Regions from separate parts of the Homo sapiens genome. Here regions 2, 3, 4 and 5 are each linked to region 1. Evidence: fine-mapped expression QTL. A gene starts in region 1. Each other region holds a variant in brackets. All regions are shown on one strand. Distances are from middle to middle.

What was found. PIP is the estimated chance that this variant, and not a neighbour inherited with it, causes the effect. A credible set is the group of variants that fine-mapping cannot tell apart.
Region 2: its variant is the best candidate, but not a certain one, in a credible set for the expression of PREX1 in whole blood (INTERVAL, PIP 0.62).
Region 3: its variant is the best candidate, but not a certain one, in a credible set for the expression of PREX1 in aorta (GTEx, PIP 0.59).
Region 4: its variant is the best candidate, but not a certain one, in a credible set for the expression of PREX1 in whole blood (INTERVAL, PIP 0.74).
Region 5: its variant is the best candidate, but not a certain one, in a credible set for the expression of PREX1 in fibroblasts (GENCORD, PIP 0.52).

What each region holds. Positions count from the first base shown.
Region 1 is chr20:48,825,980-48,831,081 of GRCh38, forward strand. It overlaps PREX1 (phosphatidylinositol-3,4,5-trisphosphate dependent Rac exchange factor 1), which reads right to left and starts at 2,020. Exons shown (of 40, transcript NM_020820.4): 1 at 1,663-2,020. The coding sequence starts at 1,881. RefSeq lists silencers at 1,514-1,583, 1,994-2,673.
Region 2 is chr20:48,675,765-48,680,866 of GRCh38, forward strand. PREX1 (phosphatidylinositol-3,4,5-trisphosphate dependent Rac exchange factor 1) reads right to left here. Exons shown (of 40, transcript NM_020820.4): 12 at 3,887-3,990; 13 at 3,596-3,645; 14 at 429-504. Among named protein-coding and RNA genes, the nearest start is that of PREX1, 150 kb to the right of the region's middle. RefSeq lists a silencer at 3,986-4,155. The variant C/T (reference allele first, on the strand shown) is at 2,097.
Region 3 is chr20:47,858,064-47,863,165 of GRCh38, forward strand. It overlaps the pseudogene SRMP1. Among named protein-coding and RNA genes, the nearest start is that of SULF2, 75 kb to the left of the region's middle. The variant A/C (reference allele first, on the strand shown) is at 1,986.
Region 4 is chr20:48,757,372-48,762,473 of GRCh38, forward strand. All of the region lies in intron 1 of PREX1 (phosphatidylinositol-3,4,5-trisphosphate dependent Rac exchange factor 1), which reads right to left. Among named protein-coding and RNA genes, the nearest start is that of PREX1, 68 kb to the right of the region's middle. RefSeq lists enhancers at 655-1,649, 1,163-1,242, 4,030-4,079 and a silencer at 3,450-3,499. The variant A/T (reference allele first, on the strand shown) is at 2,277.
Region 5 is chr20:48,765,085-48,770,186 of GRCh38, forward strand. The region is part of intron 1 of PREX1 (phosphatidylinositol-3,4,5-trisphosphate dependent Rac exchange factor 1); the gene reads right to left. Among named protein-coding and RNA genes, the nearest start is that of PREX1, 60 kb to the right of the region's middle. The variant C/A (reference allele first, on the strand shown) is at 2,680.

The DNA of each region.
Region 1 (5,102 bases):
ACCCCCTCTCCCACATCCCCCTGCCCCCAGTACATCTCCTTTCACAGGCAGAAGGGCTCTAGTCTAAGGCTGTCTCCTCCCTGAGCTGGAACTCTGATCTCACACAGCCTCAGCTGCACCCCTAAGCCATGAGGAGCCCCAGAGGACCCCAGAGTCTCCCTCTTTCTCCCAAAGACTAGGAGCTACAAAGCCTGGCTCTAGGGTCTTTGAAAGAGCCACCCCCACACCAGCCCTTCCTGAACCAGGATTAAAAGACTTCCTAGAGCAGAGAAGGGGAGTAAATGAGGCCCCAGCAGGAGGCATGGAGATTAAAGACTTTAGAGTCTCCTAACTTCCATCCAAGGCTCTGCCCCGTCCCACCCCCTCCACCCGCTGGCCACTTTTCTCACTTCCTAGGAGAGTAGGGAAGTGGCCCCTTCCTCCCTCTCACAGAAAAAAAGCAAAAGAAAAATGCAGCATAGAATAGGGGTTTAGAACACCAGCTGGGATAGTCCCGGTTCAAAGCCCAGTACCCCCACTTAATCAGCTGTGCGATCCCAGACAAGCTACCCGGCCCCTCTGGAGCTAAACTTTCCCAATCTTAAAAACGGAGGAGGCAGGACCCAGTAGCTCACGCCTGTAATCCCTGCACTTTGGAGGCCGAGGTCGGCGGATCACTTGAGGCCAGGAGTCCAAGACCAGCATGGCCAACATGGTGAAATCCCCTCTCTGATAAAAATACAAAAATTAGTCGGCCGTGGTGGCTGGCGCGTGCCTGTAATCCCAGCTACTCGGGAGGCTGAGGCAAGAGAATTGCTTGAACCCGGGAGGCGGAGGTTGCAGTGAACCGAGATTGCGCCACTGTACTCCAGCCTGGGTGACTGAGGGAGACTCCGTCTCAAAAAAAAATTTTTTTAATTAAAAATGGGGGAAATACTCGTCCCTACTTCATAGACCGCCTGTGAAGGTTAAACCTGCTAATTAATGACACATGTAAGGTGTCTGGCACATAGTAAGTGGTCGGTTGTTATTTTACAAAGTCTGAGGCCGTGGTTTTGCACTTGGAGATGGGGAGTTGGTGGGGGTGGATGCAGTTAGGGAGCCTGGACTGCCGAGTTTTGAGTTCGAAACCCACTCTCCCCGAACTCCAGCAAAAACCTGTGCATGGGGGATTCTACCCTGGGGTTCTGTCAATCCCCGCCCCTCCTCTGAGCTTCAGGTTTTATCCTACTCCATCAACGCGCAGGGACGTTGGGCTCTGGGGCTCCTACGGTATGTCCTAGATGAGTGGTGCACCGGGCGCGTAGTTATTCCTGGGAAAAAGACGCAGGAGCGCCAGCTCCCGGCGCCGCCGGGGTCCCCAAGCCCCTGCATCGCGGATGTAACTAATTTTAAAACTATTTGAAAGGCGGGGACGGGGAAGAAAAGACAAAAGGGCAGCGCGCGCCGCGGGGAAGTGGAGTGCGGGAGAGCCCCGGTCGGAGCAGGACCGTGCGCCGGCCAGGGAGGGAGGCGACGCGACAGCTCTGGAGGAGCTCGGATCCCCCCCGCTTTCCGCGCGCCCTGCGGGGCGCCCCCGAGGCAATTCTCCACCCACGGGGACCACGGCCACAGGTTGTGGGGACCGCAGCGGGGCGAGCGGCTGGAGGGAAAGCTGTCCCCAAGCTCCCGAGCGACACTCACCGACTGCAAGAAGCGCAAGGTGCCCACGTAGTCCCTCTCGGTGCCCAAGATCTCGTTGAGGACGCAGAGGCGGAGGCGCAGCTGGCGCTCGGACTCCCGGGCGGCCGCGCACGGGCCGGGGCCGGAGCTGGGCGCCGCGGCGCCAGGGGCCCGGGGGTCCGGGTGGGCGCAGTCCCCGGCCCCGTCGCCGCCGGGCTCGCTGCCGCTGGGCGCCTCCATTCTAGCGCGGCCGCGCGGCGCCGGCTCCTTCCGTCGCGCCGAGCGGCAACTCAGGCGTCCAGGCGCCCCATCCCGGACGGGGCGCGCCGGCGGGCCGGGCTCAGCGGCGGGCCGGGCTCCCGGCGCGGCGGGCGGGACTGGGGGCCGGGCGGCTGGGCCGGGGGCGGAGGCAGCGCGCGGGGGCCGGGCGAGGGGCGGGAGGGGGCGGCCCTCGGGGCTCCCAGACGGCTGGCCCCCCGCCCCCGCGCCAGGGACCGTCTGCCAAGTGCCACGCCGCGCTCGGCCGCAGAGGCGCTCTGCGCGTGCACGGGGCCCCTGGGGACGCGGCGCGGCGCTCGGCGCCTCCGTCGGAAGCTCGGGGGTCGGGCGGGAGCCTCCGGAAGGGCCCCGCGGAGCCGGGAGTCCGAGGCCGCGCGCACGCCGAACCGAGCGTACCAACTCCGCGCCCGGACGCGTGGCGCCCCCCCAACCCGCAGTCACCGCGGGCTACGCCACTCCCACCCGGCACACGCGACACCCGCCGCGCGCAGGCTCCTGCTTGCAGGTCCGGCCGCTGCTCGGGCCAAGTAAACACCGGGCTGGGAAAGCTCGCTGCGGAGCCGCTCGGGGGCAAGCCAGCCCCGCCACGCGCGCCTCCGCGGCCCCGGGAAGTCAGGGGCGACCGCTGCCTGGGCAGTGACGGCCCCTCTCTGGGCAGTGACGGCCCCTCCCGGGAACGCCGGGCCCTCGCGGTGCCCTCGGTGCTACCACGACCTTGGGAAGGAACATGCGTGGCGCGCGCTCGCTCTCACTTTTCTCTTTCCCGTTTCCTTTCCCATCTCTCTCTTTCCTTCCTTCCTTTTCTTTCTGAACTTCTTTGCCCCCTGACCCTGCCCTTTCCACCTTTCCCAGAAGAAATTATTACCTGCTCTTGAGTTATTGATCAAGTGGCAGGTACCCTGCCTGCTCCCCCTTCCATCCACCCACCCCATGGGATAAGGCCTTGGGAAACCCAGCTTCTTGTCAGGTTGCTCTGGGCAATGTTGATCATCACCCGCCTTATCGGAAGGTATGGAGAGGGGAGGAAGTTCTGGGGCCTAGAGTCAGCTGCTCAGGTTCAAATCCTAGCTCCCCACTTGCTGGCCGGGTGGCCTTGGGCTGGTTTCCTTGCTTCAAGATCCTCAGTGTTTTCATCAGTATAACGGGAACGATCATGGTACCTAGCTCCAAGGTCCTCCCCGGGGTTCCATGGGAAGTACTTAGCACCTAGAAAGTTCTCTGTAAATGTTTGTTCTTACTATTATTGCATGTGTGAAGCCCAACACCTAGAAAGTTCTCTGTAAATGTTTGTTCTTACTATTATTGCATGTGTGAACGGCCCTCTAAGCCTGGCCCCACTCTCAAATGGCCCATACAATCCCTAATCACCCGTGTTTCCGGACCAGAGATTGTATCGTCTCTGCAGGGGATAAAGTGATCCACATAGTATCCGCCTCTAGACTGTAGTCATTTTATGGACAGAAACATTGCTTATTTATTCCTGTTCCAAAAGCCTAGGATTTTCCTCCCATTGGCCTCTCAATACTGTAAGTGCCTAAGGACACAGGGAGAGAATGGGGTGGCTTCTGCCCTCTCTGACTTCTTTCTTTGGGATCATGGGCAAGGTAGCATTTGATCTGGGCCTTGGGCTGAGTGAAGTTCCCCTGGGCAGGGAGTAAAGGACATGAGATAGGTGAGCCTGTCACGCTTGGGTAGTGGAGTCAATTGTGTCCAAAGGTAGCTGGTTTTTTATTTATATTTTTATTCCTAATAAAGGCCTCTGGAGTATCTCTGCTTTGTGACTTTAAACTGTTCACGGTACCTTTCTGAGCCTCCGTTTCCTCATCTTTAAATTAATTCTGTCTACCACGAGGGGAGAACATGGCTGGAACATAATGGACCATGGAATGAAGCGGGCTTGCATTTGTATCCCAGTCCAAATCCAACTGGCAGGGTAACCTTGGCCAAGACACGTTATTTCTCTGGGCCTCAGTCGTCTAATCTGTAAAAGGGGAGTCTTTGTGAGAGCGAATTCTATGCAATACAGACTTTCTCAACCTTGGGACTATTGACATTTGGAGTCACATAACTCTTTGTTGGGGGAGGGGCGTGTCCTGTGCATTTCAGGACATTTAGCCGCGTCCCCTACCCACTAGATGCCAGTAGCACTCCCTCCCCAATCTGAGAATCAAAAATGTCTCCAGGCTGGGCACAGTGGCTCCGGCCTCTAATCCCAGAATTTTAGGAGGTCCAAGTGGGAGGATTGTTTGATCCCAGAAGTTCAAGACCAGCCTGGGCAACATAGCAAGACCCTGTCTCTACAAAAAAATTTTAAAAATTAGCTGGGCATGGTGGCACACACCTGTAGTACCAGCTGCTGGGCTGAGGTGGGGAGCTTGCTTGAGCCCAGGAGGTCAGGGCTGCAAGTAAGCTGTGATCACACCACTGCACTCCAACCTGGACAACAGAGTAAGCCTTGCCTCAAAAATAAACAGAAAAAGTGTCTCCAGACATTGCCAGATATCCCTGGGGACAGAATTGCCCCCTGTTGAGAACCACTGATGTAAAGTACCTGACACACATAGCTGGCACAGAGTAGGTGCTCAACAAATGTTAGTTCCCTTCTCAGCCCATGACCAAGGAAGGTTAGCCTCAAGTTTACACACAAATCCCACATTTCACCCAAGAATTGGCCCACACTGCCAAAAAACATTTCCACGTTGTGGATGGGTCCCATCTCTGGCCCACCCCAATGTTTTATACATCGTTACTTCCTCAGATTCTGCTGGGATCTTTTTCCCCTTCCATCCCCATCCCCAGTGGTAATGATGACACTAAAAGATAATACAGCGTTTAGTAACATACTTAAGCTCTCTGTGCCTTGCTTTCCTCATCTGTGAACTAAGAATAATATCAGTACCTACATCATAAAGTCGTTGCAAGGTTCCTGAGTGCATACATGGAGGGTGCTTAGAGCACACAGTAGGTGCTCAATAAGTGAAGTCTTTTACAATGCGTGGATTGAGTGCTGAATCTAATAGGATGCATTTGGCTGCAAGGAGAAGAAAACTGGGCTATTGATAGCTTAAAGCATAAGGACATTATTTAGCAAGAGGTCCAGAGGCAGTTGGTTCCTGAGGCTGGTGTAGGACTTCATGATGTCATCAAGGATCATGGCACCTTTGACCCTCCTATCCTCAGCA
Region 2 (5,102 bases), 150 kb before region 1:
GTGGTGGCTCACACCTGTAATCCCAGTGATTTGGGAGGCCGAGGCGGGCAGATCACAAGGTCAGGAGTTCGAGACCAGCCTGGCCAACACAGTGAAACCCCGACTCTACTAAAATTACAAAAATCAGCTGGGTGTGGTGGCGTGCGCCTGTAATACCAGCTACTTGGGAGGCTGAGGCAGGAGAATTGCTTGAACCTGGGAGGCGGAGGTTGCAGTGAGCTAAGACTGCACTACTGCACTCCAGTCTGGGTGCCAGAGCAAGACTCTGTCTCAAGAAAAAAAAAAAAAAGATCAAGATGGTAAATTTTATGTTCTGTGCAGTTTGCCACAATTAAAAGCAATAAGAAAAAATCTTTAAACAAAACAGAAAGCCCCACACTGACGGACAAAGCAGAACACTGGTCACACACCCCTGAGGAGGCCCTCACCTGAGCCAGCAGCCAGTCCACCAGCTTGCTCCCGGGAAGCACTGACTTGTAGGTCTTCAGGTGGTAATCACGGTCTCTGTGGAGAAGGTGAGCGCACAGTGAGCAGGGCAGGGCGGGGAGGACAGAGGTGGGGGTGGTCCTGACTTCCCTGCAGGACGTGCCCACGAGTCAAGGATCTCCAGGCTCTCTAGGCATTGGGCAGGGGTCCGAGTCTCAGCCCAGACTCCACACATCACTTGCAGTGTGACCGAGGGCAGGGCTGTTCCAAACCAGGCCTCCTTCCACCTACAGAGTGGGAGGCAGGAGGCAGCAGCTCCAGGGCTCTGGAAACTTTCTGTCTCTAGCCCAGGAGATCTCAGCTGGGGGTGATTTTGCCCTCAGGGTATGTCTGGAGACATTTTTGGCTGTCAAGACCTGGAGGGGCTAGGGCAGGGGTGCTGCTGGCATCCCGTGTGTAGAGGCCGGGGATGCTGCTGAAGATCCTACAATGCCAGGCAGCCCCCAACAGAGACTCATCCTGGCTACGATGCCACCGGCGCCGAGGCTGGGGAGCCATGTTGACTCTCACAGAGTGGCAGGGGAGACCCTCCATTCTTTCCTTTCCTTTTTCCTTTTTGTTTTGTGGTTGACATTGATGTATTTAAACCAAACCATTGTGGAAAGCCCCTGCAAGGGGCTGGTGTGGTCTATCAGGGCCGAGCAGCACAGAGGCCTGTGAGTTTCACGGTTCTTTCCTGAGGTAACTGCCCTGGCCTGTGACAGCATCTGAATCCCTGCCGAGCCTGGATCCCATGGGTTCCGCTAACCTTGCAGCCGAACTGCAACAACTTCTCAGCCTCTGAAGCTGTGACAAAAACGCGCTTCTGTGGCCAGTCCATGCCAAGGCTGATAAAGTCTAGTTGGAGGATTTCTCTCAGGCTTTAGGACTGGGGGGGTCTGACAGGCTCCACGTGCAGTTGGTGGGGGTCTGCTACCTTCCCCAGCCGCTTCCTTCTTTGAGGCTGGCCAAGGAGCCCCACCTGCCTTCTGGGGCTTGCACAAGAGCAGCAGCAGAGGAGCCCAGGAGGGCGGAGGCAGGATGGCAGATGAAAGTGGTTCCCAGGGCCTGACATCCCACGGGGCCAGCAAATGCTAGGAAATGGTCCTTCCTCTCCACTCTTCCGAGAGGTGATAAGAGCTATCAGGTCAGAGGACAGAAAAATCTGCAGCTGGGATAAGAATCAGGTCACCCTCTCTCCCTTCATCCACAACTGTGAGCTTTGTGGTAAAAAGAATAACCAATCTCTGGCGTTCATTATACAATGCCAGGAGCCATTCAAAGCACCTTCCGTGAATTTAATCCTCATGGCAACCCAAGAGGTGAGAGCTATTCTTATGTCCACTTAACAGATGCAGAAACAGAAGCAAAAGAAGTTAATCATCTTTCAACATTCACTGACAAGCTTTTACTGAGTCCCTAGGCCTCTGCTCTCCAATAGGTAGCCATTTTAATTTAAATTTCAATCAATAAGGCCAGGCACGGTGGCTCACACCTGTAATCCCAGCACTCTGGGAGGCTGAGGCAGGCAGATCACTTGAGATCAGGAGTTTTGAGACCAGCCTGGCCAACATGGTGAAACCCCATCTCTACTAACAATATAGAAATTACCCAGGCATGGTGGTGCATGC[C/T]TGTAATCCCAGCTACTCGGGAGGCTGATGCAGGAGAATCGCTTGAATCCAGGAGGCAGAGGTTGCAGTGAGCCGAGATCATGCCAATGCACTCCAGCCTGGGCAACAGACCGAGACTCCGTCTCAAAAAAAGAAAAAAAAGAAAAAGAAAAAACCAAACATATAAAAAAAGGCCAGGTGCAGTGGTTCACGCCTGTAATTCCAGCACTTTGGGAGGCCAAGGCAGGCAGATCACTTGAAGTCAGGAGTTCGAGCCCAGCCTGGCCAACATGGTGAAACCCCACTTCTACTAAAAATACAAAAATTAGCCGGGCCTGGTGGTAGGCACCTGTAATGCCAGCCACTCAGGCAACTGAGGCATGAGAATCACTTGAACCCGGCGGAGGTTGCAGTAAGCCAAGATTGCGCCACTGCACTCCAACTTGGGGGACAGAACGAGGCTCTGTCTCAAAAAAAAAAAATTAGCTAGGCATGGTGGTGCACGCCTGTAGTCCCAGCTACCTAGGAGGCTCAGGTGGGAGGACTGCCTGAGCCTGGAGGTTGAGACTGCAGTGAGCTGTGATTGCACCACTGCAATCCAGCCTGGGTAACGGAGCAAGACCCTGTCTCAAAAAAAAAAAAGAAGAAGAAAATTAAAATGAACAAAGGGAGCTGATATCGTTGGGTTGTGTCCCCACCCAAATCTCATCTTGAATGGCAGCTCTCATAATTCCCACATACTGTGGGAGGGACCCAGTGGGAAACTACTGAATCGTGGGGCAGTTCCCCCATACTGTTCTTGTGGTAGTGAATAAGTCTCACAAGATCTGATGGTTTCATAAGAGGAAACTCCTTTCACTTGGCTGTCATTTTCCTTTTGCCTGCCAGGTAAGACGTGCCTTTCACATACCTCCACGATTGAGAGGCCTCCCCAGCCATGTGGGACTGTGAATCCATTAAACCTCCTTTTCTTTATAAATTACCCAGTCTTGGCTATGTCTTTATCAGGAGCATGAAAACAGACTAATACAGAGGACAGAAAGTACCAGGTTGGTGACACTTTATGCAGGTAGGCAGGGAAGACCCCTGTGATATGGAGGCGTTTGAAGGAAGTGAGGGAACGAATATGAAGGTATGCAGAGGAAAGGCATCCTAAGCAAAGGGAACAGCAGGCACAAAGGCCCTAAGGTGGAGCCCATTATTATCCCCATTTCACAGAGGAAACGGTTGAGGCACAGAGAGGTTAAGTAACTCTGCCCAAGGTCACACAGCTGCTAACTAGGAGGGAGGTTCAAGCTCAGTCTGTCTGGCTCCAGAACTGACACCTGCATCACTACACTGCAGTGCTTCCCACAATTTAATTCAGTTAATCCTAATGACAAATCTAAAGGATAGGTGCCACTGCAAGCCCCATTTAATGGAGAAGGAGACTGGAGCTCAGAGAGGTTAAGTTGCCAGCCCAAGGCCACACAGCTGAGAAGAGGTAGAGGTGAAATTGGAGCTTGGAAAGAGTAACTTACTTGATCACCGGGGTGTAGAGGCTGTGAAGACGGCAGTAAAGCCTCACACCCTGAAAGAAAAAAGGGGAGGAATTCTGGGATCAGGCCACATCCTTCACGAGCCTCCAAATCCAGGCTGATGGGAGAGATGGCTTCCAGGACGGGGCAGGGCAGGGTAATGGGGGCAGGGGTGAGTTGTGGGCAGTGGAGAAGGCAAACAAGCCAAGGGGCACAGGCCTGCTCTGAGGCGAACCCAGGGTGGAGGTGAACGAGGCCAGCTGAGTCAGAGTCACAGGGGCGGAGGGCCCCTACCTTGGACATGATGTCCTCCAGCTCACTTCGGGCCTTGTAGGTGCCATCGTCGTAGCGGAAGCGATACATCACCTGCTCATTCTTGAACTGGTGCTTGTCGGAAACTGGAGAGACAGGAGGACCTGTGACGCTGGGCACGCCCCCTCAGCCCCTCCCAGCCACGCCCCCCAGCATTGGCCTTCACTGCCAGCCACGCCCCCTCTGCCCCTCCCAGTCACACCCACCAGCATCAGGCTTCACTGCTGGCCAGGCTTTTTTTTCACTGAAACCCCACGAGGTGGGTGCTATGACTTCCCCATTTTGCACATGAGGATACCCCATCCTCCTGCTACGTGCAGGACCCTGCTGAGACTCGCAGCTTGGGGTGGGGCATCTACAGGGGTGAGGGACCCAGAAATGCCCCTGATCCAGCCTGCACTGGGACCCCTCTGGCTCAGCATGTCCTTAGATCTAGATCACCAATGGATGGGTGGGGACAAGCATGCTGGGGCCTGAGACCACATTGCTGAGATTTACGGAGCCATCTCTATCCCACAAAGTCATGCTTGATGCTTCAGATCCATTAGCAATGCCTATAAGGCCCTAACCTTCAAGATACCAATCACCTCACTCCTACACTGGCCCGAACCACCTTCGCCTCCCACCTGGACTATCACAGCAGCCTCTTTGCTGGGCTCCCTGCTGTCACCCTTGGTCCCAACAGTCTCCACAGGGCAGCCAGAGGGATTCTGCCAGCGTGTTCGTCCAAGCAGGTCTTTCCTCTACGCAGAGCTCAGCAACAGCTTCATAGCTCACTCAGAGTAAAAGCCAAAGACCCTACAATTCTCTATAGGATCTCATCTCACCTCCTGGACTCTCCCATCAGCCCTGTGCCCTCTGACCTCGTCTCCTACCACGCCCCCTCCTCACTCTGAGGCAGCCACACTCCCTCCCTGCTATTCCCTGCACAACCCACTTAGACTCTGCCTGAGGACTTTGCACTGGCTGTTCCCTCTGCCTGGAACCATCATGCCCACCTGGGTCCCTCCCTCACTGGTGGCTCAGGTCCTGGTTCCAATGTTACCTTCTCGGTGAGGCCTTCCCCATCTCCCCTATTCAAAAGTGAACGCCAACACCACACTCTTTACCCTCCTTCCCTAGCACCTATCATGTTTTACTATCTTGCTTTGTAAAGATAAGCAAGTAAAGATCTTATCGTCCCCTCCAACTACAAGGT
Region 3 (5,102 bases), 970 kb before region 1:
AGGGAATGTTGAAGAATTTAATTCGAGATGAAATGTGCTCTTGTTTGTGTACAATTAATTTTCTCCCCAAATGAAAGGTTTTGTCTGTCACTTGAGTGTTTCAATAGCAACCGCGTAATTAAGGTAGCATGTGCCTCTTCAGTTTGGGAAGCGGCTGTTTGTGTTAACATGTTGGGGAAGCACACATTGCTTGGACTGGTTCCTGGGTCTAAGAAGGTAAAAAACAAAACAAAACACACAAAGAATGGAAGAAAACACCTCCAACTAGAGCCTTGGCTCCTGCGGGGATGATGTCATCTGGAAACTGTGAGCAGGACCTTCCCTGAGAACCAAGAGGCCTGGGCTTCCTGGGATGGGAGGCTGTGAGGAGGAGAACTTAGACAGTTTCCAGAAACTCTAAAAACGGAGTCATGAATTCAAACGCCCACGGGGGCCAGGTAGGAGGTGTATGTCCTGGAAGGGGTTGGCTGTAGTTTTTCAACACAAGTGTGTTTTGTTTGCGTAGCAACACACAGGTGTGAATACTTTAGTGCCACAAAGGAGTATGCACTCTCATTTGTGTTGAAATACATGGGTCTCCTAATTTAAGTTTCATGGGTTTTTTTTTTCCTGTTAATAAAGAGATGGTGTATTACTTCTCTACTGCTGTGTAACAAATTGCCACAAATTTAGGGGTTTGACACAGCAGCCATGTCTTATCTCACAGGTTTTCCAACATGATGTGGCTGGATTCTCCTCTGAGGATCTGACCAGGCTAACATCAGGGTATCTGCCAGGCTGTGGTTCTTATCTGGGACTCAGGTCCTCTTTCAAGTTTCCTGGTTGTTGGTAGAATTCATTTCCTTCTCATGTTTTCCATGTGGTCCTCCCTATGTTCAAGCTAGCTATGGTGGGTGGAGTCCTACTCATGCTTTGAATCTCTCTGCCTTCCTTTTTAGCTTTTAAGGGTTCCTGTAATTATCTTGAGCCCACCTGGATAATTGAGGATCATCTTCCTATTTGAAGGTCAGCTGACTATTTAATCTTAATTACATCTACAGAGTCACTTTTGTTCTGCAGTATAACATGATAATGAAAGTCACATCTGGTGGTGGAGGTTATGGAGACCAACTCAATGTTGAGAAGTGAAAAATCTGGTTAAAAAGAGATGAGAGATCTGAACAGACATTTTACCAAAGAAGATATATGAGTGGCAGCTGAGCATATGAAAAGATGCTCAATGTCTTTGTTGATGCAAAGTAAAATCACCATGTGATGCCACGACACACCCAGTAGAATTGCTAAATTGAGAGAGACTGACAAGACCAAGTGTTGGCAAACATTTGGAGCAGACGGAACACTCCTACATGATTGGTGGTTGTTCCAATGGTATCACCACTGTGTCAAAACAGTTCCCAGTTTCTTACAAAGTGAAACTCACACTGTTTGACCCAGTGATCTCACTCCTCGGTATTTATCCAAAAGAAATGAAAACATATGTCCACACATAGCAGCTTTATTCATCATGAAACAACACAAATGCGCATCACCCGGTGAATGGGTAAACACACCAGTGTATGCAGTTACAATGGAATATGATACTACTCAACAGCAACGCAAAAGAAATGATTTACCGATAAAAGCAGCAGGAATGGAGTTCAAAAGTATAATGCAGCCGGTCCCAGTGTGCTGTGGCTCCACGTGGCCTGTAGTCCCAAGTCCGTGCCCCACATTGCCTGCCTGCCATGGAGCCTGACCCTAAGGGCCCTGCTGCCTCCAGCCTCACTGCCATCCCCGAAGTCTCGTTCCACCAGACGTGTAGCCTGTGGTCCGGGCAGGCCTTGTCTCTGCTCCACGACCAGCACTCGCACTACCAGAACATCCTTGTCTTCTGCAGTAAAACCTACAGCAATATGCTGGTGTTGGATGGCATCGTCCTGGGCATAGGGAGGGATGAGTTCTCCTGCCAGGAGATGGTAGCCATCCTGCCTCTCTGCAGCCACCCC[A/C]AGCCACGAAAGGTGCTGATCATCGTGGGCAGAGATGGGTGTCTTGCACAAGGTGGGGAAGCACCTCTCCATGGAGTCTGTGGTCCAGTGTGACATTGACAAGGATGTCATCCAAGTCTCTAAGAAGTTCCTGCTAGGCATGGCCAGTTGCTACTCTAGTTCAAAGCTGATCCTTCATGTGGGTGACAGTTTTGAGTTCATGAAGCAGAACCAGGATGCCTTTGATGTATCACTGACTTCTCAGACCACATGGGCCCGGCTGAAAGCCTCTTCAAGGAAGCCTATTGTCAGCAGATGAAGGTGAAGGTGGCCCTCGCGGAGGACAGCATTCTCTGCTGCCAGGGAGAGCACCAGTGGCTGCACCTTCACCTCATAAGGAGATGTGGCAGTTCTGCCAGTAGCCGTGGTGGGCTACACCTACTGCATGGTCCCCATCTACCCCTGCAGCCAGACTGGCTTCATGCTGTGCGGCAGAACATGATCACCCGTGACCGGGAGCTGGTGCAGCACCTGACACAGCAGCAGGTGGGGCAGATGCAGCTGAAATGCCACAGCCCAGACACACACCGCACAGCCTTTGTGCTGCCCAGGTTTGCCTGCAAGGCCCTGAATGGTGTGAGCTGAGCCCCACTGCCACCACCAACACCACCTGGGACCTCGGACAAGGGAGTCTCCAGGGTGCCTGGGTGCCTCCAGCCCTGGGCCAGACCTCCTGCCGGCTCTCACTGATCAACCGAGTGTTACAGGCCCCAGAATGCTGCCCGGCCTGCCCTGCTGGGTGGACTGTCTGTCTGTGTGTCTGTGTTGCTCTGTGTGGCATTCAGCCTCCAAGCCTATACCAGCTGTGCACACCGCTGTCTCTCTCACTTCTGTTACCCTCCTCACTCACCAAACACATGTATTAACAACAACAAAATAGTATGTTTAGGAAGAAGCCAGGCACAATGCGGTTCCATTTGCATGCAATTCTAGAAAATTCAAAACAAAAGTGACAAAGAGTAGTGGTTGCCAGGGGCTGATAGTGGAGAGAAGAGATTGACTGCCAAGGGGTGGGAGAAAACTTTTTTGGGATGAGGGAACATTCTGGATTACGATTGTTATGGTGGTTATTTATATGACTGCATACAATTGTCAAAACTCAACAAAATGTTCACTTAAAATTGGTGGCTTTTATTATATGCAAATTATACCCTCATAGAGCTGACATTATATCATTACTATAATGGAAAAATCAGTGCTCCCTGCCAAAATTTCAGGCAGCTGTAAAAAGAAATACACATATGTGGCTGGGTGCGGTGGCTCACTCCTGCAATCCCAGCACTTTGGGAGGCCGAGGTGGGTGGATCGCTTTGAGCTCAGGAGTTAGAAGCTAGCCTGGGCAACATGTCAAAACCCCATCTCTACAAAAAATACAAAAATCAGCCAGGCATAGTGGCTTGCGCCTGTCATTGCAGCTGCTTGGGAGGCTAAGGCTGGAGGATCGCTTGAGCCTGGGAAGCAGAGGTTGAAGTGAGCTGAGATTGTGCCACTGCACTCCAGCCTGGTGACAGAGTGAGACCCTGTCACACACACACACACGAAATACATATACGTAAAAAGTATATGAAAAGTATATAAAAAGAAAACAGACATCCCGGGTGTTGTGTGTGCCTCCTTGCACCCCCCAAACCCATACTATGGCTTACTAGGCACTAGATTCCAGCTATGGGTTACATCTGGAGAGCCCCCTATTGCCCCCAATAGATGACCACAGCTGTATAGATTGTGACTATGAAGATATTTGTATGCATTGTAGAATCAGCTTAATATGTGAAATGGTAGATGTTATTCAAGGGTGCTAGTCTAAACCCACAACTGGAGGTTTGTTCAGTGAGAAGTGATTGTACACACGGTCTGTCAAATAGGACCACACTTTGCGCCTCCAGGACTTTGCACATACTGTTCCCTCTGCTGGGATTGCTCTTCCTGCAGCTCTTTGACCAGCCGGTTTCTTCTCTTTCTTGGGATTTTGGCATCAAAATAGTCTCAGAAAAGCCCTCACTGACCACCAGCCGTGCTAATGCAGCCCCCACCCCAATTACTCTCTGACTCAAAGCCATGCTCATTTTTTTCAAAGTCTTTTCCTAACTAGCTTGTTTATTGATTTAACTGTTTTTTTTTTTTTCAGAGACAGGGTCTCACTCTGTTTCCCAGGCTGGAGTACAGTGGTGTGATCATAGCTCATTGCAACCCTGAACTCCTGGCCTTAATAAAGGGATCCTCTCACCTCAGCCTCCTGAGTAGTTAGAACTACACACATGGTTTTTTTTTAATCTAAAATTTTTTGAAATTTATTTTTTGTAGAGATGGGGGTCTTGCTATGTTGCCCAGACTGGCCTGGAACTGCTGGCCTCAAACAACCTTCCTGCCTTGATTTCTCAAAGCACTGGGATTACAGGTGTGAGCCACCATGTCTAGCCACTGATTTAAATTCTTGAGTGTAGATTTTCTTTCCAACCAGACCATGAGCCCCATGAGGTTAAAGCCAGGTCTGGACCATCCCATGCAGTTTCTCCACAGCCTTGAGTGGGGGCAGTCACAAAGCAGACTGGATTAGTTTTCCATTGCAATGTAATAAATTGCCATAAACTTGGCAGCTTAAAACAATGTGCTTTTATGATCTCACAGTTTCTGCAGATGAGAAGTCTGGGCATGGCTTAGTCAGGCCCTCTGATCAAGGTCTCCAAGGCGGCAATCAGAGTGCTGGCTGGGGCTGGGGTCTCATTTGAGGCTTGGCTCCTCTCCCATGCTCCTGTGGTGTTGGAAGAATTCATTTCCTTATAGCTATAGAACTCACAGCAGCTTGCTTCTTCAAGGACAGTGGGAGAGCATGTCTCTGGCTTCAAATCTCTTCCTTCAAAAAGCCTGATATTCTCTTTTAAAGAGCTCACTTGATTAGGTCAGGCTCAACTGAGATAATCTCTCTTTGGATGAATTCAGGGTCAACTGATTAGGGACCTTAATCACATCTGCAACATAACATAATCTAATCACAGGAGTGAAATCCCATCCTATCAGCAAGTCCCACCTACATGCAAAGAGAGGGTGTTATACCGGGTGTGTTCGCTGCGGGGTGGA
Region 4 (5,102 bases), 69 kb before region 1:
CAGAGCAGATGCCCAGTAACAAGGGGTTCAGCAGGTGACTGATGGTCAGCATGTTCGTCCTGCATAACAATCCCACAAGGTGGGCTACTGCATCCCCTTTTTAGGAAAGAGGAAAACAGGGCATGAATCACACATTAGGCTCTGGAGTCGGCCAAGCCTCGCACCTCAGTTGCCTCATCTATAAAATCTGTGTAATGGAGCCTCACCTTGCAAGTCGCTGACATGAGGATTAAATCTGACACTGCTTGTAAATAACTTGTTGCCTCTGCCCACGGTGGGAGCCCCCGGCCCCCAGGATCCAGCCAGGATCACAGGAGGTGCCCAATAAGTCCTCAGTAAATGTCCAGTGAAGGGGTGGGCACTTTCAATTCCGTGTAGCCCCTGGACCAGCTCAGACCAGGCCCCTTCCCTGGGCACATTTCCTTGGCACCATTCCTTGGACCTATAGAAATGTTGGAGGCCTTTAAAAATACGTGCATTGGCTCCAAATACAAAAGGAAAACTGCATTGTCAAAAAGAATAAATCTTGATTTAAATGTCTACAAAATTACCAATCAACTCTGCCTGTGGCTATGTGCACAGAGAATGCAGGGAGTGTGTGCTGTGGGTGCATCTTAGCGGGTGTACCATGACAGGACCCTTGGGGTGGTTCCCCAGATGCAGCAGACCCTGAGGCAAGAAGTGGAGTACAAGTAGTTTCTTTGGGAGGTGGGAGGTGGGAGATGGTCCCTGGAAACACCAACAGGGAGGTGGAACCAAGAAGGGAAGGCAGCCCACGAAGGGTATGAGACCAAGCAAGTTACCACCATGAGGCCCCAGACAGACCGTGTGGAACGCACACCTCACAGCCACCCTCAGGGAGTGAGGAGGCCAGGGAGTCTGTACATCAGCCCTGTCTGTCACTAGTTTAAGGGCAGTGGGGGTGATCCTGGCACTCCCCATCTTCCCTGAAAGTGACAGAGCAGCTCAGAGCAGACAAAGCCATCAGGCAGAGGAGCGCAGGTGCTGGCAGTGGAGCGTCCCTCTGGTGTGCCCTGGAGTGGTTGAGGTGTCGCAATGCAGCCTCAAAAAGAAAGAGGGTGTAGGGCCCCCCCGAGCTTGGGGGGGTGAAAGACAGGGCTTTGCAGCACCGCAGCCACACAGGCCAGGCACTTCAGCAGATGTTCTCCTAATACACACCAGGACGGCCTCGCTGCCTGTTAAAACACCAAAATACTTCTGAGCTGATGGGGAAAATCTCTACATGTGCAGGGCTGAAGGTCAGAGGAGGTGGCTGCGGAACCACAGGCAGTCCCCGGTCAGACGTGGAGGCAGGTTTCACGTGGAGCAGACACAGGGAGCAAACAGCATTGCGTGTATCTGAGGATACAGCATCACGGGCAGGGTCAACAGCTGGGGCAAAGGCCCCAAGGCACATTCAGTCTTTCCAAGACAATCCTATCGAAAACGCCTATCCCTGCTCTGTTTTCCTCACAGCACCTGTCACCATGGACATTATGTGTGTTCATTATCAGTCTATTATCCATCTAGCCCACCTGAATCCAGGCTGCATCTGCGGGGAACCCATACACATTCCCCTGCGGAGGCCAAAGATATGGCCAGCATTCCACCTCCTCCTCCCATGCCCCAACTCTCAGAAGCCCTCCCTACCCTTAGAAACTCTCTCTACTCCTTGCTAGAAGGGCACTGTATCTCCTAAGCAAGCAGTATGTAAGAGTGGATGAGGCTCAAAGGCTAGAACTAGCCACCTGGTTCAAATCCTGCCCCTGCCACCTACTGCTCTGTGACCTAGGCAACTGACTCCATCTCTCTGGGCCTCATCTATAACATGGATGGGGACCATAAAACTACTGACTTCATGGGCTATTGTGAGGCTGATATGAAATACTGCAGGCAGGCCAGGCGCGGTAGCTCACGCCTATAATACCAGCACTTTGGGAGGCTGAGATGGGTGGATCACCTGAGGTCAGGAGTTCGCGACCAGCCTGACCAACATAGTGAAACCCTGTCTCTACAAAAAATACAAAAATTAGCCAGCCATGGTGGCTCACATCTGTAATCCCAGCTACTTGCGAGGCTAAGACAGGAGAATCATTTGAACCTGGGAAGCAGAGGTTACAATGAACTGAAATCGCACCACTGCACTCCAGCCTGGGTAACAGAGCAAGATTCCATCTCAAAAAAAAAAAAAAAAAAAGAAAAGAAAGAAAAAAAGAAATACTACAGGCAAAGCATTTAAATGGGCTCAAATCCCAGCTCTGCTGCTTACAAGCTCT[A/T]AGACCTGAAGTAAATTATTTATTCTCTCTGCCTCCATTTCCTCCTCTATAACGGGGGATAAAATGAGTACACAGGATTACAATGAGAATTACAGAAGCTAACACACATAACAAGCACTTGAATGGTCCCTGGTGCATAGCAGGTGCTCAAAAAACATTAGCTATTATTGGCCAGGCTCACACCTGTGAGCTCACACCTGTAATCCTAACACTGTGGGAGGCCGAGGCAGGCTGATTGCTTGAACCCAGGAGTTCGAGCAATCAATCAATACGGCAAAACCTCATCTCTACCAAAAATACAAACAAACAAACAAAATAGCCAGGTGTGGTGGCGCACACCTGTAGTCCCAGCTACTCGAGAGGCTGAGGTGAGAGCATCACTTCAGCCTAGGAGGCAGAGGTTGCAGTGAGCCAAGATCGCACCACTGCACTTCAGCCTGGATGACAAAGCAAGACCCTGCCTCAAAAAAAAAAAAGCATTGGCTATTATGATCTCCCCATCTTGAGTTTCTAGAGTGTCTGCAGGGAGTCCAAGCCCTGGTGCAGGTAGACAGAACCCACTGTGCTTCCTAAGGAAACCTGGATTTGGATCAACCACATCTGTAGGGCTTCTACATGCACCAAGCACACTCACATTTATCCCACACTATTTTTACTTATTTTTATTAGTTTTTTCCATCCTGCAAATAGCTCTATTATTATAGACTGCCTGCTTCCGAGTCTCCTGAGGTGAGATGAGAAGGGGAAGGCTTTATAAACTGCAGAGCCCCCCACATCCTCATCACCACCAGCGCACCCCTCTGCCCTGCCCCATCCTCCTTGCTGACTGCCAACCACGTGACTTCAGCAAGTCACCACACTTCTGAGTCAATTTCCTGGACCAAACAAAAAGGGGGGGAGGAGTAGTTGTTGAGGTTTAAGTGAAATGATGCAGGTGAACACTTTGTAACTACAAACACTTCCTGGAAAAAGTGGCAGAAAGGCTGAGCCAGGAGAGGGAGGCTGGACTAGGAAAGGGGCAGGAAGTTGCTTGTGATGATATTCTAGGGGGACAAGTCCTCTCCGAGTACCAACCATCCCAGCAAGTGTTAACCAGGGCCTGCCGTGCACCAGGCACCGAGCTGGGTGCTGGAGACACAGATATAAGCCATGACCCTGCCACGGAAGGACTTATGCATTCTTACATTCGCCTGTGTAGTCAGCAAATACTTACTGCACACCTATTATGTGCCAGGCACTGCGCTAAGAGCCAATGACACATCAGTGAATGAACAAATCAGACTAACTCCCCACCTTCACAAAGTAGTGGCAGAGACAGACTATACACTGATTTTAAAATAAAATGGCAGGTAGGAATGATTGCTACAAAGAAAACTAAAGCAGGGTAAGAAAACAGAGAAGGATAAGGTGGGAATGCCATTTCAAGGAGCTGTTCAGAGAAAGCCGTTCTGAGAAGATGGCATTTGAGCAGACACAGGGAGCAAACAGCATTGCGTGTATCGGAGGACACAGCATCATGGGCAGGGTCAACAGCCGGGGCAAAGGCCCCGAGGCACATTCAGTCTTTCCAGGACAATCCTATCGAAAACGTCTATCCCTGCTCTGTTTTCCTCACAGCACCTGTCACCATGGACATTATGTGTGTTTATATCAGTCTATTATCCATCTAGCCCACTTGAGTCTCACCTCCAGGAAGGCAAGGATGTTTGTCTGTCTAGGTCACTGTGGTGTCCCAGAGCCTAGGATTGGACCCAGCACACAGCAGACCCTCGAAAAGGATGTGTTTAATTAATTAGTCAATCAATCATCTAGAGTAGACTACTCCCACCCCCACCCAGATTCTAGGCCCTGGTAAAAGGTGCCCAGTTCTCACCCCACCCCGCCCCGTTCCCCACCACATCGGGAGAGGAAGTTGATGCAAAAAACAAGTTGCAACAACCTGTCATGAAGAGGTCTGATGCAACAGTGGGGGAAGGCAGTGGGGGACACTGAGAGGAACCCAATGCTTTTCTTCACGCAGCCCCCATCAAGGGGCTGGGGCCTGGCCTACAAACTTTCCTGAGTTCACCAACAACCCATCCTTCCTTCAACAGATATTTATGCAGAGCCTCCTCTACATGATGGGGCTACCTTATGGGTCTCAAACTGGTAACTCAGAGGCATCATTCCTTTGGCCTGCAGAGGGGTTTGAGAAACTTGGGCCTAAGTTTGAATATCAGGTTTCCCATTAAAATCCAAATTCCAAGCTTCTTTTGAAAAAACTGACACATGGGTCTCAAATGCCCACAAGGCTGCAGGTGCTGTAGAGCAGAGTGATAGCCATCACCTTCACCCAGGACAAGTGCTCCTCAATTTCCCACCACCCAACCCACTGCTGCGCCCTGTGAACACCTGAGTGTGAGACTTCTGTCCTAGACACAGGCAAGGCAAACCTGAACCTGCTACTTCGCCTTTACCCTCACCCAGGGCAGACATCACTAATGGAATGCAGATCTTTTTCCTGCTAAGTCTTCTCCAAGCCGTTCAGAATTTATCTCCCTTCACTGTTGTCAGAAATGGTCTAAAATCCTTCCCATTCACAACCCAGCTTCTCCCTACTCCTTTGGGCTCCTCAGTTGTTGATTTTTTTCCTGAAAAATGGGCTCATCAGAGTGGGATTCTAGCAGAGATTCTCAACTTTGGTACCTTGACAGTTCAGTGGATAGTTCTTTGCTGTGAGGGATGTCCTGAGTATTATAAGACACTCAGCAGCTTCCCTGCCCTCTACCCTCTAGATACAAATAACAACCCTCCTCTCCTCAGTTGTGACAATCAAAAATGTGTCCA
Region 5 (5,102 bases), 61 kb before region 1:
GACTGCTAGCTCGAAACATGTACACGAAAGAAAAGCAAACCTGTTGTATCTCCATGAATCACGGCCAAACACAATCCTAATACTCTGTTATTATGATTACTACAAAACAGATATTATCATACAGTCTAGCTATACATTTCATACATTGTTTGGCATATGTTTAGTAAGCTGCAAAATGCTTTCTTTCCCCACCCACAAAAGTATCTACAAACAAATATTCATTAAGGACAGATGGTCTAATAACAGTAATTACTATAATAATTACAGCAACATCAAGTATCTTTCACTATTCAGATCTATTCAGTTCCTGAGTTTAGAAAGCAAGAAGCCATTTAGAAAGATCAGATAAGGGAAACCTTGGGATACTAAGCTGTCAGAACTAGATAATGCCTGCATTTCCAATGAAACGTGGACACGACAACCAGCTGCAACACATATTAAGTGCTTACTGCATGCCAATGCCAGGGGTACAGGAGGAAGCGACTCCTACACCCCCATTTCACAGACAAGGAACAGAGTTATTTGCTCAAAGTCATGCAGAGGAGGAGGACGGAGCCAGACCTAAGTGCAGGCCCCAGGGGCTTCAGAGCCAAGTCTCTTTCCCATGGGGCTATACTGCTTCTTCAGTTCAAAAATTGGGAGAATTTAATTAGGGGAAGGAGAATAGTGTAGCCTCGTGGGAAGACCAGGAGTTGGGAGGCCTAAATCAGCGTCCCCAATCCCTGGGCCGTGGGCTGTTAGGAACCGGGCCACACAGCAGGAGGTGAGCAGCAGGCAAGAAGCAAAGCTTCATCTGTATTTAGAGCCATCCCCATTGCCCGCATGACCACCTGAGCTCCGCCTCCTGTCACATCAGCAGCAGCATCAGATTCTCATAGGAGCACAAACCCTACTGCAAACCACCCATGCCGGGGATCTAGGTTGCACCCTCCTTACGAGAATCTAATGCCTGATGATCTGTCACTGTCTCCCATCACCCCCAGATGGGACTGTCTAGTTGCAGGAAAACAAGCTCAGGGTTCCCACTGATTCTACATTATGGTGAGTTGCATAATTATTTCATTATATGTTACAATGTAATAATAATAGAAACAAAGTATACAACAAATGTAATGTGTTTGAATCATCCTGAAACCATCCCTTCCCCACCCCTAGGTCCGTGGAAAAAAATGTCTTCCAGGAAACCCGTCCCTGGTGCCAAAACGGCTGGGGACCACTGGCCTAGATCACTTAGGCATCCCTGGGTGGAGTGACACAAAGGGATCGTCACAAAAGGCAAATGTGGTCACCCACTGCCCTGCCCAGCCCATCAGCCGCTCCCCGCTTCTCTGAGAACCCCATCCAGAAGGGCTCTGCAGGACCTGACCTCAGCCTCCAAGCTGTGCTGCAGCCAGACCGGCCTCCAGGATCCTCAGCTGTTCCCCAAACACACCCAGCTTGCTCCTGCCCCCAGGCCTCAGCACAGGTGCTCCCTCCACCTGCAACACTCATCTCCCTCCTGCCAGCTGCTTCAAGTCTCACATTCCCTGCCCTCCCCAGTGAGATCCAAGGTTGGTCAGGGCCCAGGAAACCCATGCATAGGCTCCCATACTTAGTGCCACCATGACTATAACTTAACCTTGATTTATGTGATGATTCAATTAATAACAGGCTTGCCCACCAGCCTAAGACCTCTCAGAGGTCCCACTTAGTCCCAGTTTCCATCTTCTTTCATTTATGCTCATTCTTGGTGAGTGAGTGGATGGACGGGTAGAGGGAGGGAGACCCCTTTCTCTGGGGCAGGTTCCTCACCTGTAAAATAGACACTGTGTGATAACACTGCCGGCTTCATGGATTACCATGAGGACTACGAGAAATGCTGCACACTAGCTGAATGATTTCAGATGACTGATTCCTCCTCTCTGGGCCTCAGTTTCCCCATCTGCACAGCGCCCACCACTCAGGGCCTGCTGACCTGGTTGCCAAATGTAGCCCTGCCACAGACTCGCTGTGGGACCCTGAGAAAGCTGCTCCCACACTCTGTTCCCTCGTCCGCGAAACGGGGAACAGTGGTCAGATGAGAGGATCTCAAAGGGCTCCCAGCTCTGGGGCTATGAGGTCAGGCCCACACATTCTAACCACCTCGACTCCCTGCCTTCCAGCCAGACCAGTGACAACCAGCCACACCACAGACTACGACAGCTCACCAGGGATTCTGCAAGGGAGTCTTTCAATGGCTCCTTCCCTGGGGGACCTGACTATGGGACAGAGCCCCCGAGGAGGGAGGGGAGATGATGGAACCAGAGAAGCATGAAGAAGCCCCCTCAAACGAGGGCCCTGAAGAGGGGATGGCTGAGAGCTGGAAGATGGAGGTTCTGGTGTCAGACAAGCTGGTTCAAGTCCCCACCTGTCAGCGGGGGAGGGTACGTGGGCCTCTGAACCTCAGTTTCCACCTAACTCAGAGAAGGAAATAGATAACGAACCCTAACTTCAGAGTCGCACCAGAGTGAAATGCCAACGCTTACGTTACCATCACTGATGGGGTTCTTATCTGTCAGTGCATCGACGTAAAAGCAGCCCTCTCCAACTACAGACCACGCTGTACTTTCCCGACATTTCCCCAGAGTCGTGTGTCTCATTCCACTGCAGCCCCAATGCCTAGTCTGCCCTTCCTAGGTCACCCCAGGCTTTTTCTTACCT[C/A]AGGGACTTTGCACGTGCTGTTCCCCGCCCCTCATCGTCACTGCACAGGATGCTCAAATATCACCTCCACAGAGAGCCTCCCCTGACCATCCTGGCTGAAGCAGCCTCACCCAAGCCACAAGTCGCCCCCGAGCCACCCTCTACCTCGATAATCTGTTTTAATTCCCTGTAATGCAGGTAGCACAAAGTGTTGTTCTATGCATTTTGCTAATTTAGAGTCCTCCTCTCTGCGCACTGCCAGCTCCGTGATGGTGAGGGTCTCTGGCTGCTTGTGCTGAATCCACAGCATGGGTTGAGGTAGACAGAAGATGCTGAATAAATACTGGTTAAGAGGGGAAAGGAGGTGAAGTTCCATAAGCCTCCAAGCTTCCATTCCTATGTATGTAACACAGAGTAAAAGCCTCTATCTCTCAGTGTTCTTTTGAGGATTCAAGGAAATATCACTCAAAACATAAAGTGCTTAGCACAGAGAATGGAACACAATAAAAACTCAAATTTTAAAATTACCAATGTCCATCAACAGGAGAACGGATGAACAAATGGTGGTGTTCTCACACAACAGAAAATGATTCAGTAATCAAAAGAAAATTGCTAACACACGCAGCAAACTGGACGCATCTCAAAAACATGGCCCAAGCGAAAGAAGCCAGACACAAAAGGGTGCAGCCACCCGTGGGATTCCACATCTACGAAGTCCCAAAACTGGCAAGACCCTTCTTTGATGACAGAGGTTAGAAAAGCCGTCACTCGGCCGGGCCCAGTGGCTCACGCCTGTAATACCAGCACTTTGGGAGGCAGAGGCGGCCGATCACTTGAGTTCAGGAGTTCGAGACCAGCCTGGCCAACACGATGAAACCCCGTCTCTGCTAAAAATATAAAAATTAGCCAGGCATGGTGGCTACTCAGGAGACTGAGGCAGGAGAATCATTTGAACCCAGGAGACAGAGGTTGCAGTGAGCTGAGATCATGCCACTGCACTCCAGCCTGGGTGACAAAGCGAGACTCTGCCTCAAAAAAAAAAAAGAAAAGTCGTCATTCAAGGCTGGATAAAGACTGGCAAGGGGCTCAAGGGGACTCTGGAGGCAAAGAATGTTCTAGATCTTCACCTGGTGGTGATGCATACGTAATCACCAATGGAGCTGTGCACTTCACTGTCTGTAATTATCCTGCAACAGAAACTATTCCCTTTTTTTTTTTTCAGCAAAGGGTTTAAAAGGAGATTGTCACCGTCCACCCTGGTTTGTCTACTGTCCACGCATGGGTTGTCCTGGCTCAAGCCCTGAGGGCCAATACATCGTTCTGGCTTCAGGCAGAGCCAGACCCCATTCCCATTCCTTCTACAACTGTGCATCCACGAAGCCCTGGCTTCTTTGAGGCCCGTTGCCAAAGAGACGAGCCACCCTCCACACACACCCCCTCGCTGCCTCCCAACCCTGCTTCTAAGAAGATTCGGGAACAGGAAGCCTGTGTCTGCTCTCAGGTTCTGAAGCAAAGAGGCTGGGGGTGGTGGTGCGGGGGAGGGGAGATGAGGGGCTGCCCCGTTGAATGAGACGTGCCTTGAATCCTGAGGGGATCCTCTCCAGGTGTGTGAGAGGTGTCCCCCGCCCACCACAGGCACAGGGACAGCCACAAACACCTACTCTACCGTCGTCGCTGGGGCATCTCTAGGAGCCCCAGCACCCACTAGGCATGGGGCCGGCTTCGTACATCAAAGAGCCCTTGCATGTTGCCTTTCTGCTTAAAATCCTCCAACAGAGGCTGCGCTATCAGAATGAGCTCACACTCTGTGACCTCACCTCCTACGCAACTCCCTTCTCCCTCATCTCCTCCCACACTGGCACCCTTGAAGGTGCAGAAACACATGAGACAGGCTCTTGCCACAGGACCTTTGCACTGGCTGTCCCCTCTGCCTGGAACGCCTGTCACCACGTAACCACATGACTCATTCACTCTGCTCCTTCAGGTCTCTGCTCAAACGTCACCTCCTCAGTGAAGCCTGCCCTGCCCACACCATTGAAAACTGCCACATCTTCCCAGCAGCCCAGCCCTCTAATTTTGCTTCATGTTTTTCCATAGCACTTACCACCTGAGAACACTACAAATTTTCCTTGGCTGACACCTTCACTGTCTGTCTTCACTGCACACACGGTGAGGGAGAGAGCTTTTGTCTGTATTGTGCACTGCGGCAGCCTGGACACTCAGTACACAGCAGGTGCTCCATAAATCACTTGTAAGCCCAAGGAGGTAAATTTGAGGTTTATCACGGAATGGACTTTCTAAAATTTTCTGCAGGATTTCAATTGTCTGCTAAGAATATGTGCTATCTTTACCAATTAAAAAGAACAATTAGAAATCTGGTTTTAAAAGCCAGGTGGGAGCCATCTCTAGGTCAGTGGGTCTGATGCCCAGGAAGCGGGCATAAG